Homo sapiens: one gene and its partners. The protein of the gene in region 2 interacts with the protein of the main gene of each other region in a pairwise test. Each region holds a gene or a part of one and is shown on either strand. Other genes may lie near its edges.

What was found. The genes of interacting proteins can lie anywhere in the genome.
Region 1: the proteins of PAIP1 (region 2) and RND1 interact in a two-hybrid assay, tested with the Homo sapiens proteins (one large-scale study listed by BioGRID).
Region 3: the proteins of PAIP1 (region 2) and TMEM132D interact in a two-hybrid assay, tested with the Homo sapiens proteins (one large-scale study listed by BioGRID).

Annotation. Positions count from the first base shown.
Region 1 is NC_000012.12:48,859,758-48,862,870, forward strand, and holds part of RND1 (rho-related GTP-binding protein Rho6 precursor), read right to left. Parts: intron 2,362-3,113; coding exon 2,252-2,361; intron 1,375-2,251; coding exon 1,240-1,374; intron 1-1,239. UniProt on the Homo sapiens protein: Lacks intrinsic GTPase activity. Has a low affinity for GDP, and constitutively binds GTP. Controls rearrangements of the actin cytoskeleton. Induces the Rac-dependent neuritic process formation in part by disruption of the cortical actin filaments.
Region 2 is NC_000005.10:43,540,078-43,543,577, forward strand, and holds part of PAIP1 (polyadenylate-binding protein-interacting protein 1), read right to left. Parts: intron 3,040-3,500; coding exon 2,927-3,039; intron 1-2,926. UniProt on the Homo sapiens protein: Acts as a coactivator in the regulation of translation initiation of poly(A)-containing mRNAs. Its stimulatory activity on translation is mediated via its action on PABPC1. Competes with PAIP2 for binding to PABPC1.
Region 3 is NC_000012.12:129,071,226-129,075,025, forward strand, and holds the end of TMEM132D (transmembrane protein 132D precursor), read right to left. Parts: coding exon 2,650-3,800; 3' UTR 501-2,649; downstream 1-500. UniProt on the Homo sapiens protein: Regulate neuronals morphology via inhibition of the WAVE regulatory complex (WCR), a complex that controls F-actin cytoskeletal dynamics.

The sequences.
Region 1 (3,113 bases), on a different chromosome or scaffold from region 2:
CATACCTATAGTCCCAGCTACTAGGGAGACAGGAGGGAGGATCACTTGAGTCCGGGAGGTCAAGGCTGCATAAACAACTATTGTGCCACTGCACTCCAACCTAGGCAGATCACACTTTTTTTTCTTGAAATAGAGTCTCACTCTGTTGCCCAGGGATTACAGGTGTGCACCACCATACCTGGCTAATTTTTTGTATTTTTTGTAGAGACGGGGTTTCACCACGTTGGCCAGGCTGGTCTTGAACTCCTGACCTGAAGTGATCCACCTGCCTCCGTCTCCCAAAGTGCTGGGATTACAGGCATGAGCCACCACACCTGGCCTTTTTTTTTTTTTTTTTTCCTTGAGACAGAGTCTCTCACTCTGTCGCCCAGGTGGGAGTGCAGTGGCACAATCTCAGCTAACTGCAACCTCCATCTCCCAGGTTCAAGCGATTCTCCTGCCTCAGCCTCCTGAGTAGCTGGGATTACGGGTGCATGCCACCACACCCAGCTACTTTTGGTATTTTTAGTAGAGACAGCGTTTTGCCATGTTGGCCAGGCTAGTCCTGAATTCCTGAGCTCAAGTGATCCATCGGCCTTGGCCTCTCAAGTGCTGGGATTACAGGCGTGAGCCACCGCACCCAGTGCCCCTCCTCCTTTTCTTTTTTTTTGAGACAGGGTCTCACTCTGTCACTCAGGCTGGAGTGCAGTGGCATGATCACAGCTCCTTGCAGCCTCAACCTCCTGGGCTCAAGCAGCGGTCCTCCCACCTCAGCATCCTGAGTAGCTGTGACTACAGGCACTCACCACCACACCCAGCTATTTTTTTTTTTTTTTTTTTTTTTTTGGTAGAGACAGTCTTGCTTTGTTGCCCAGGCTTATCTCAAACTCCTGGGCTCAAGCTATCCTCCTGCCTCAGCCTCCCAAAGTTCTGGAATTACAGGCATGAGCCACCTTGCACCTGGCCTCTTTTTTTTGTGTGTGTGAAATTCTAACAAACACCTCTAATGATTCTAACGCAGGTGGTCAGAATACAATCTTAGAAATGTGGGCACACACAGGAATAACTCACCTGCTAACTGACAGCATACATCTGGGTAAGCAGGTGCCCACCACCTCTCTCCAGGTGACTCATTTGCTAATTATAACAGCAATTCTCTCTTGCCATAGTGGAAGAATTTGAGCCAGGGCCATATTTCAAGCTGTCTGCCTCTAGCCTTCCTCACTCCACCCCACGACATGCACTTGCATGCGCACACACCTGCTCATAGGAGATGGGCGCCTGCTTCTGGTGGGACAGCTCCATCAGAGTACTCAGGTCTGTTCGCAGGTCTGTCTTGCAGCCAATGAGCAAAACGCGGGTGCTGGGACAATAATCTAGGATTTCTGTCCTCCACTGAGGGGTGGAGCAGGAAGAAGGGTAGGAGAAGGAGGAAGGAAGGAGAGTTAGTGGCAGACAGATACCAGGAGAAGCTTGGCTGGCAACGTCACACACATCACCTCACTCATCACCAGCCCAGTCCTCCCTCTGAGTCACAGCATCACCGTTGCACTAATTACATCATTTTCCTGCCCATGAGGCCTTTGGGGCCCCCAGAGTGCTGACCCAGGAGCCTGTTCCCCCAGTCTATGGCTCAGTCACCAGAGAGGGCACAAGGGCAATTCTCCTCCCACTCTCTGCCAACCATATAGGCATGGATCTGCCCCCTCACCCCAAAGGGCCTCACAAGTCCAGAATGCCAGGGGGAAGCCAACCAGTCTCTTCTCAAGGGAAGAACATGATCCCAGCATCTTCTATACTATGCTAGATACACAAGGTTTCCTAGGACTCCTCAGCATTGGTGGATCTGCCCAGACCTAAGCATTTCATACCAGCAGCTCAGCTCAGACCTGCCTGGCTTGCCCATTCTCAGTGGGACTGGGATCAGGGTCTATAGAAGCTGCCTCCAAAAGGTCCCATGCCTGACCCTCATACCGTATCACCTAAAGGTTCTCTGACTCTCCGTCCTCTGCTTCCTGAGTCTTCAATACCACCCTCCCTTGCGGGGCCTCTGGCAAGGCAGCATGGGATAACAAAAAGGGCGGGAGGCAGTGGGGTAAGGAGACCCAAGTTCCAGTCCCAGAGCTGTAGCTAATGGTGTGGCCTTGGGCAAATCTCTTCCTTCCCTGGCTTCCATTTCTTGATGTTATACAAGAGGGCATTCATGACAAGGTCCCGATTCCTTCTTGGTCCTCATGCTGAGTTAGAGATTAGAGAGTTGATCTAGTCTTACCTTCTTGAGTGCGCTGTCCACTGTCTCTGGACGGCTGATGTCAAAACATAGTAATACTGCATCCGAGTCGCTGTAGCAGAGTGGACGGACATTATCGTAGTAGGGAGATCCTGGTGTAGGCCAGAAAGAGCTGATGGTGAGCCATGGTGTTTTCCTTCCCCAATAGGCCTAAGCCCTAAAGCCCTGGGAATACCATCCTCAATCCCTGAGGATCCACCCATCTCCCAGGGGGAATGTACTGCGGCTGGAAGCTTGGGACCTGACTGTCTGCCAGAAGGTCATGAAAGAATATCATCCCCCTTAGTCCAGAAAAAGGGAAAGAAGACAAAATAAAGTGGGTGGAGTATAATTTGGCCCTGTTTGGGTCTCCTACAGCAGGCTTAATTGGAGATCTACTAGTTTTCTGAGTCCCAGAAGATGCTTCCAGCCCTGCAGAGAGACAGCACTTATTTCAGGGCTTCTCTCTTCTAGAGCCTGCCTGCTGCCCAACTTCACTCCCTTCTGCTCCAGGGTCTCCCCAGTGAAGAGAAAAACCTCCTTGTTACATAACCTGCCTGCTGCTTTTCCATGGGGTCAGAACTTTAGGAGGCTAGCAGGGGAGGGAGAGAATCAAGGGTTCAGTGCCCCACTTCTCCACCCACCCAGATCGGCTTACACTGAAAAGGGCAAAAGGAAAGCTGTACCTCCTGACCGCCCCACATCTCAGGAAGGCAGTCTCAAAGACAGCAGCACCGATGGCTGGGGATTTAGAGGCTAGAGCAAGAGTCCTTCGTTGGAAGGGAAATAGGCAATGCAGACCCAGGTGGTCCCATATGGGAGAATGCTAGGAGCTGAGCCTGCCCCCTCCACCCTGGGGAAGGAG
Region 2 (3,500 bases):
AGTAATTGACTCTGGGTCAGTTTGCCAACCACGAAACCCCAGCACAGCTTACTGTGCTTACGTGGCCAATTCCAATGTTTACGAGGTATATTAACTGAGCAACATCTTCTGTTTAAGTCAAATGTGGTAAGATATTTGTTATCATCTTGTACATATTAAATTCCTCATCAGAAAAAAGTTGGGATATTTATAGATAGTACATTCTGGTTAATAATGGAAGAGATCAGTTAATTAATGCCAAATCAGTTATTTAAAAACACCTGTTGGCTGCTTTTCTGTTACAACTTTGTCGGTAAGAGTTGATGAAATAACTTTTTTTTTCATAAAATGCTATGACAGACTGTACGTTAGGATATGATTATGTACATGCAAACAAATACCTACATAATTGACTAGGTGAAAAGTCAAATTTTTAAGCTAAAGATTTTCAATTATAAAAGCAATGTATGTTTATTTTGGAAAGGTTAAAACAGAAAAAGTATAAAGAACAAAGTCACCTGCACTACTACTAAAAACAAGAGATAACTGCTGTGAAGGTAACTTCCGTTCCATCTTTTTCAAAGTATGTATATATTTTTTAAAGAGGTAGCAGAATTATGCTTTGCTTTTTACTTGTTAGCTCACTAGTATTTCTCTACATTATTATTGACAGGATTACAGTACTACAGAAGCACATATGGTGGGTAACAGTCAATGAGAAGAGTGGGTCTCAATCATAGCTATACAGTAGAATCACTTGGGAAGCTTTAAAAAACCATGTCCTAGCTCCACCTCGTCTAATTACACCAGAATTTCAAAGGGTTCAGACAGGATCTCGGCTTTAAGTATCTAGGTAACTCTAAGGCACAGCCGGGGGTGAGAAGCACTGAAAAATATGAGTGAGCATTCCTGGCGTCCTACCGCCTACAAGTACCCACTCTGAATCTTTACAGAAGCTATAATTTGTGTTTCTTTAATTATAAGTATGGTTAGATATCTTTTTATAACTTTGACATTTGTATTTTTCCAAACTGTATCTATATCTATTTGGCGCTATTCCAAGTATTTTCATTATTATTATTATTTTTGATACGGAGTCTGGCTGTCACCCAGGCTGGAGTGCAGTGGCGCGATCTCTGCTCACTGCAAGCTCCGCCTCCCGGGTTCACGCCATTCTCCTGCCTCAGCCTCCCAAGTAGCTGGGACTAAAGGTACCCGCCACCACGCCCAGCTTTTTTTTTTTTTTTTGTATTTTTAGGGTTTTTTTTTGTTATTTTAGTAAAGATGAGGTTTCACCATGTTAGCCAGGATGGCCTCAATCTCCTGAACTCGTGAGCCGCCCACCTCAGCCTCCCAAAGTACTGGGATTACAGGCATGAGCCACTGTGCCCCACCTATCATTTCACTTTTAATAAGTCTCTGACATATTTGGGATTTCAGCACAGAGAGTGAGATGGGAACTCATCTTTTTTTCCCAAATGACTATCCAGTTATGCTACCAGCACAATTTATCCTTTTTATCAAAAGCTTGAATTTTCAAGGGTCTCTGGGGTCTACTTCTAGAATCTTTATTCTGTTCCACTGCAGTTTAACCACACAATGGAATGCTTTGCAATCATTAAAAGTCACTTAAAAAACTAATGGACGAACTATAATAAACTTGAAGATAACCTTGTTACTGAAGACATCAAATTATAAGAAAACTAGTTTTCTCTAAATTAGCTTATAAATTGAGTATTATCTCCAAAATATCTAACATACTAGCAAGACTTGTGTAATTTCAAACACTGATTCTAAAGTTCATTAGACGAAACAAGCATAGCAAAGAATATTTGACAGGCTGGGCGTGGTGGCTCACGCCTGTAATCCCAGCACTTTGGGAGGCTGAGGTGGGCGGATCACTTGAGGTCAGGAGTTCGAGACCAGCCTGGCCAACATGGTGAACCCCATCTCTACTAAAAATACAAAAATTAGCTGGGCATGGTGGTACGCACCCATCATCCCAGCTACTGGGGAGGCTGAGGCACGAGAATCGCTTGAGCCTCAGAGGTAGAGGTTGCAGTGAGCCAAGACTGAGCCACTGCACTCCAGCCTGGGTGACAGAGCAAGACTCGGTCTCGGAAAAAAAAAAAAAAATCCCACAAAAGAACAAAAAACTAATTACCCTAAGATATTTTTAAAAATGATAGCTTTTGGCAGTGCAGGGTGGCTCATGCCTGTAATCCCAGCACTTTGGGAGGCTGAGGTGGGTGGATCACATGAGATCAGGAGTTTGAGACCAGCCTAGCCAACATGGTGAAACCCGTCTCTACTAAAAATACAAAAATTAGCCGGGCATGGTGGCGGGTGCCTGTAGTCCCAGCTACTGGGTAGGCTGAGGCAGGAAAATCACTTGAACCTGTGGGAGGCAGAGGTTGCAGTGAGCCAAGAGCGTGCCGCTGCACTCCAGCCTGGGAGACAAAGTGAGACTCCATCTCAAAAAAAAAAAAAAAAAGCTTTTTAATAGCTATTGTATGAATTGTATGGTAATAAAAAGGAACAGAATAAGTGATAAATGGAATGAAAATCCAGAATCAAAACCCAAATAATGCAAGTGTGATAAAAGTGGCAATTCAAATCAATAAGGAAAAATGGATTATTCACTTTTATTCTAATCTAAATAAAATTAGATCCTTATTCAAACCAAAGCTACCAAAGTAATAAGAATTACATAAGTGTTTATTTTTAAGATCTTGGAAAAGGAAAGATCTTTCTAAACACAAAACCAAATTCACAGACCATTACAGAAAAAAGACTGGTATACTGAACTATAAACTTCAAATATAATGCACATAAGAATAGGCTGCCCTATTCTTTCCTGCAGCTTTTTATAATATATGGTCTGAGGAATGGTCAAATTCTAGTATATTTAGAAGTAGTTTTCCTTTAATTTCACATTTACACTGACCTTTGAAGTAGCAATTGGCGGAAGTTGCCACTCTGTGGGCTAATTGTCAGATGATGGGACAGGTAATTACACAGGCGAGCTCCCATATAAGAGAAATTTGGGATAGATGTGGCCTTTTAAAAAGAAGAAAAGTGTTATATGACATAGGTACATCATTATTAATGTAAATACTTAACAGCAACATTCTAAAGAAGAAAAAATTGACTCCCCAAACTGACCATATATACAAGTCTTTTGTCATTGTTAGGCTTAAGGAAATTAAATTCACTTTCCCTCCCAACCTTACAGCAAGAACCACAATAAGTACAAAAAAAAAAAAAAAAAGAAAAAACCCATCAGTTACCTGAGGCTACCAGAAAGCGAAGAGATAATGTCTCCTGATGCTAACCCATTTTTTGCAGAAAACCTGTACATGTCCTCAACTGCACAGTGACAATTATGAATGAGAATACTGCCAAACTGTTGACCAGTGGGGCTTCTTGGGGCAGGAAAGCACAGACTTTTTAGTGTTTGGCAGTCCAGGACAAGATTCCCTGGCATTTTGCTTCATGACTTTGGACATCAGTAAACCTCC
Region 3 (3,800 bases), on a different chromosome or scaffold from region 2:
TTGCATGAATATAAGGATTCCATGCATCTTCTTGTTTCGTAGAATTGTCTTGGGGCTGCAGTTGATAAAGGAATCTACAATCAACTTTTTAACCCAGTCCAGAGTTGTTGTATGTACACTCGAGACCCAAAGGAAGGACAGAGAATTTTCCTCACCTCAGCCCAAAAGGAGGCTGGAATGCATGCTTGCCTGCCACAGTTTCCACTTACTTACCACCATCAGTCAGCAGGCTTTTAGGAGAGAATTGCACGTGTGATTTATTTGCAAATCCTTTCAGGTCCTGGAGGAGAGATACTTGGTACACAATGCACTTTGTCATCACGTGTCAACATCCCCTCAATGCAGGGAGCAGCACTACACGATGTAAAGGTGGAACTGGATTGTGCTGGGATCCTTCAATCAGCATTTCATTTAGAGCTGCAGCATTTGCAGAGCCATTTGCAATTGATGCCAGCCCCTTGGAGGGGGTCAGCGTGTAGAAGACAAAGGACAGCCATAAAGCCACTGAATGCAAACTTTATATTTACAGTCAGTAAGTTTATAAATATATATTACATTCTTACAATCTACAGTACATTCTACACGCAGATGGATTTGGAAGCGGGCAGCGGCTGCAGTATTCAACAGAACATGACACAGGTAAGAATGGAAAGAAATATGAGGACGTTACTGAAAGCAAAGGATTCTCATTGAAAAGGGGTGACAGCTTAATCACCCAACCAAACAAGGTAGGTAAGCTTGCGGACAGGAGCAGGTGACTTACTGGCTGCAGAAACCTCAGTCTCAAGAGCACCACAGTTGCAGGGGAGAGGGCTAAGGTTGGGAGGGTAAACTGGTGAAATTTACACACACATGATCTAAAGAGAATTCAATTCTATGGAGAGGAAGAAGGAGTAAAGACACACACTCAAAATTACAGAGATGAGATGGAGAGGAAGCAGGGAGAAGATAGGTTCAAAGGAGGAGAGAGATACAGAGACAGACACACAGAGAGACTGGAAAACAGACAACTGAAGAGCAGAGAGAGAGAGAAAATGACCAGAGGGAAAAATAGAAGATCAATTCAACAGCACGGCCTCTTCTGCCCACCACCCGCTGCCCCCGACCATCTTTTGCAGGATCCTATCTGGCTGGCAATCACCCAACACACCATTCTCTACCTTGGAGTGAGCGTGAGATGAGGCAGGAATTCTCTGATGTATCCTTGCCCCCATCTTCATAGGCTTCATAAGTGAAGGGATTCAGGGATATCCAGAGTCATGGCTGGTCTTAAGCAATGCTGAACCTTTCGGGGCTGACTGCAGGACCAAGTGCTTGCAAACCTGCATCTTCACCACATGCACTGATGCCCCTTATCCCTTCGCACCTCCAAGATGAAGAAGGTTTCTGTGCTGTCCGGTGTGTGTGAGGCTGGGCTTCCTGCTGGATCCACCACTTTCACACCCAGAACCCCCCCAACTCCACACGCCCTGCACGTTCCACACAGGCACCCCGATTTGTCTCAACAGCCTCGAGGCCACATCTTTGGACAGGAGATCTGCCATGAACAGTGAAAGACCCATCCCAAGTGGCCCTGTTTTCTTTCTAGTAAAGCAAGGGAATGTATATCCCCTGGTATGGAATTCACCGTGACTACCGCCCATGCCTAGAGACCAGCCTCTTCAAAGACGGACGGCGTGGGACATATGCCCAGGTTGCGGGGGGAGCTTCTCTACAGAATGTCACTTGGGAGTTGACACAAAACCCAGGGGGAGAAAAAAGACCCAGCAAATACTACAAACTGCCCTCTCCCTCCCCCACCCACAGGTGACCAACGGCTTTGGGGAGGATGGCAATGCAGTGGAGGAATAGAAATGGATACATTGTGAACTTGATATGAATCAAAAGAGCGTGGTTCTTTGAACCTGATTCAAATTCTATGCCCAGTATCCTTAGTTTACAAATAAAGAAGTACCCTGAAGGGCTCAGAGGATTTGCGTCCATGTGTTTGTCCTTGGCATGTAGTTACAAAGGTATTTGTGGCCTGTTAGCCCACATGTTCCCTTTCAGTCCTTGTCAGCCACTTCCTTGGCCTGTCCATGATCTGAGACAGCTCTGGCCCAGCCTTTGAGAGACAATGACTCACAATCATGCCTCCCACAGCTGACGGCGGCACTGGACTGCCTGTGATCGCGCTCACAGCAAGATGTGCTGCTCCAGTTTCGATGACACGCTTCCTCCCATTGATCCATGGATGCGATCCATGGATGCTCCACCTGAGTTGTACTTTTCTTCCATAGTCTGCAATATTGAATATTGGAGCCATGTGGATTTTACAATATCCAAATTGCTTTGATTCGAGAGAGAGAGGCTGTTCTTTCCTGGACGCTCTCAGACGCTCAGTGATTCAGAACTCGTTTTTGTTTCAAGTCTTAAAAATCTTGCCATGCATGATAAACCTCTTAAGCAAGACACTGTACTCTGGAATGTGTGCGTCGATGCGGACTCCAGGCCTCGCCGCCGAGCCGGGGTCATTGGCTGAGGCTGTATGGATAGTGTCATCCTTATTTTGTCCTGCTGCTTTGTTTCTCTTCCGGGGGCACCGTTGCTACACATCCTGGAATTAAAGGCTGAAAGGTGAGTGAGAACCAATGTCTGTGTGTGTCTGGCTTACACATTTTCATGTAACCTCTCCATGTAGTTGTGCAGCTCTTTGCAGTCCCCAGGGTCCAGATCCTGGCAGACCCACTTAATGTCATCCTCGCTACTCATCACGATGGAGTTCCTGGTGGGGTACTCGTCGTCTGAGGAGACGGCGGTGAAGGTGGTAAATTTTACCCTTTTCCTTTTTGAGGTAGGGGATGTTGGGGGCTCACTTTTCTGATCTTTCCCATCAATGATGATGGGTCCCAAAGGTTTGAACAGCTGCCCATTGATGCTTTTTTGGGAGTTTGTGCTGAGGAGATATTTACTTTCCTCGAAATCCATGCCCCTGTCAATGGCAGTGATTTGCTCATCTTGCGAGGAGGCAAAGTTGATGTGATTCTCCAACAGCTCTGTCCGGTTGCTTAACCCAACCCAGTCATGAGAGTGACTCATCCCTTCCTGCTCCTCGAAGGGAACCTGTTTGTGTCTGTATTTTAATGCAAAGGTCACACAGTTTATCAAGAAGACCAAAATGGCCAAACAGAAGACTCCCAACAAAGCATACATCCCAATTTCTAAGTCGCTCAGCCCTTTGGATGCCTGCATAAGGTCATTCCCATCCATTTCCCCATTGCTTCTGGGGAGGTCCACCTGGGCTGGGAAGCTGGTGAGGTCGCTGGGGATGGTCTGCAAGTGGCTGTTGTCATCTAAAAGGCTTTCCTGGCCTTTCTTCTTCTGCAGGATGGACCTGTCTGTCGTGGTGCCCCGTCCCTCCATGAGTCCCATAGAAGAACTGCCATAGTACTGTCCTTCCTGACTCCCCCATTCCTGCGAGGGTTTTTTGGGCCTTCTGTCACTGACATTGTTTTCCATGTGAACCCCTGCCCCTGTGTGTCTGCTGTCACTGGTGTTGGGGTTAGCATCGTTTTGGCCAAATTTAACTTTGATGTTTGCCGTTCCAACAGCTAACACACTCTTCCGCTTGGATTTCTGGCAGGATTCACTAATAACCATTTCCACCTTGACCAGGGTGCCTTGTCCTTCTGTTTCCGCAGCAATGATAGGCCACTTGAATTTGGGGTCTTGGTGGATGGAGACTACCTTCTCATCCAAAGATGTGGCCATCAAGGAGAAGTCTTTCCCATCGTAAATATCCAAGGGCGTGACTGAGCCAT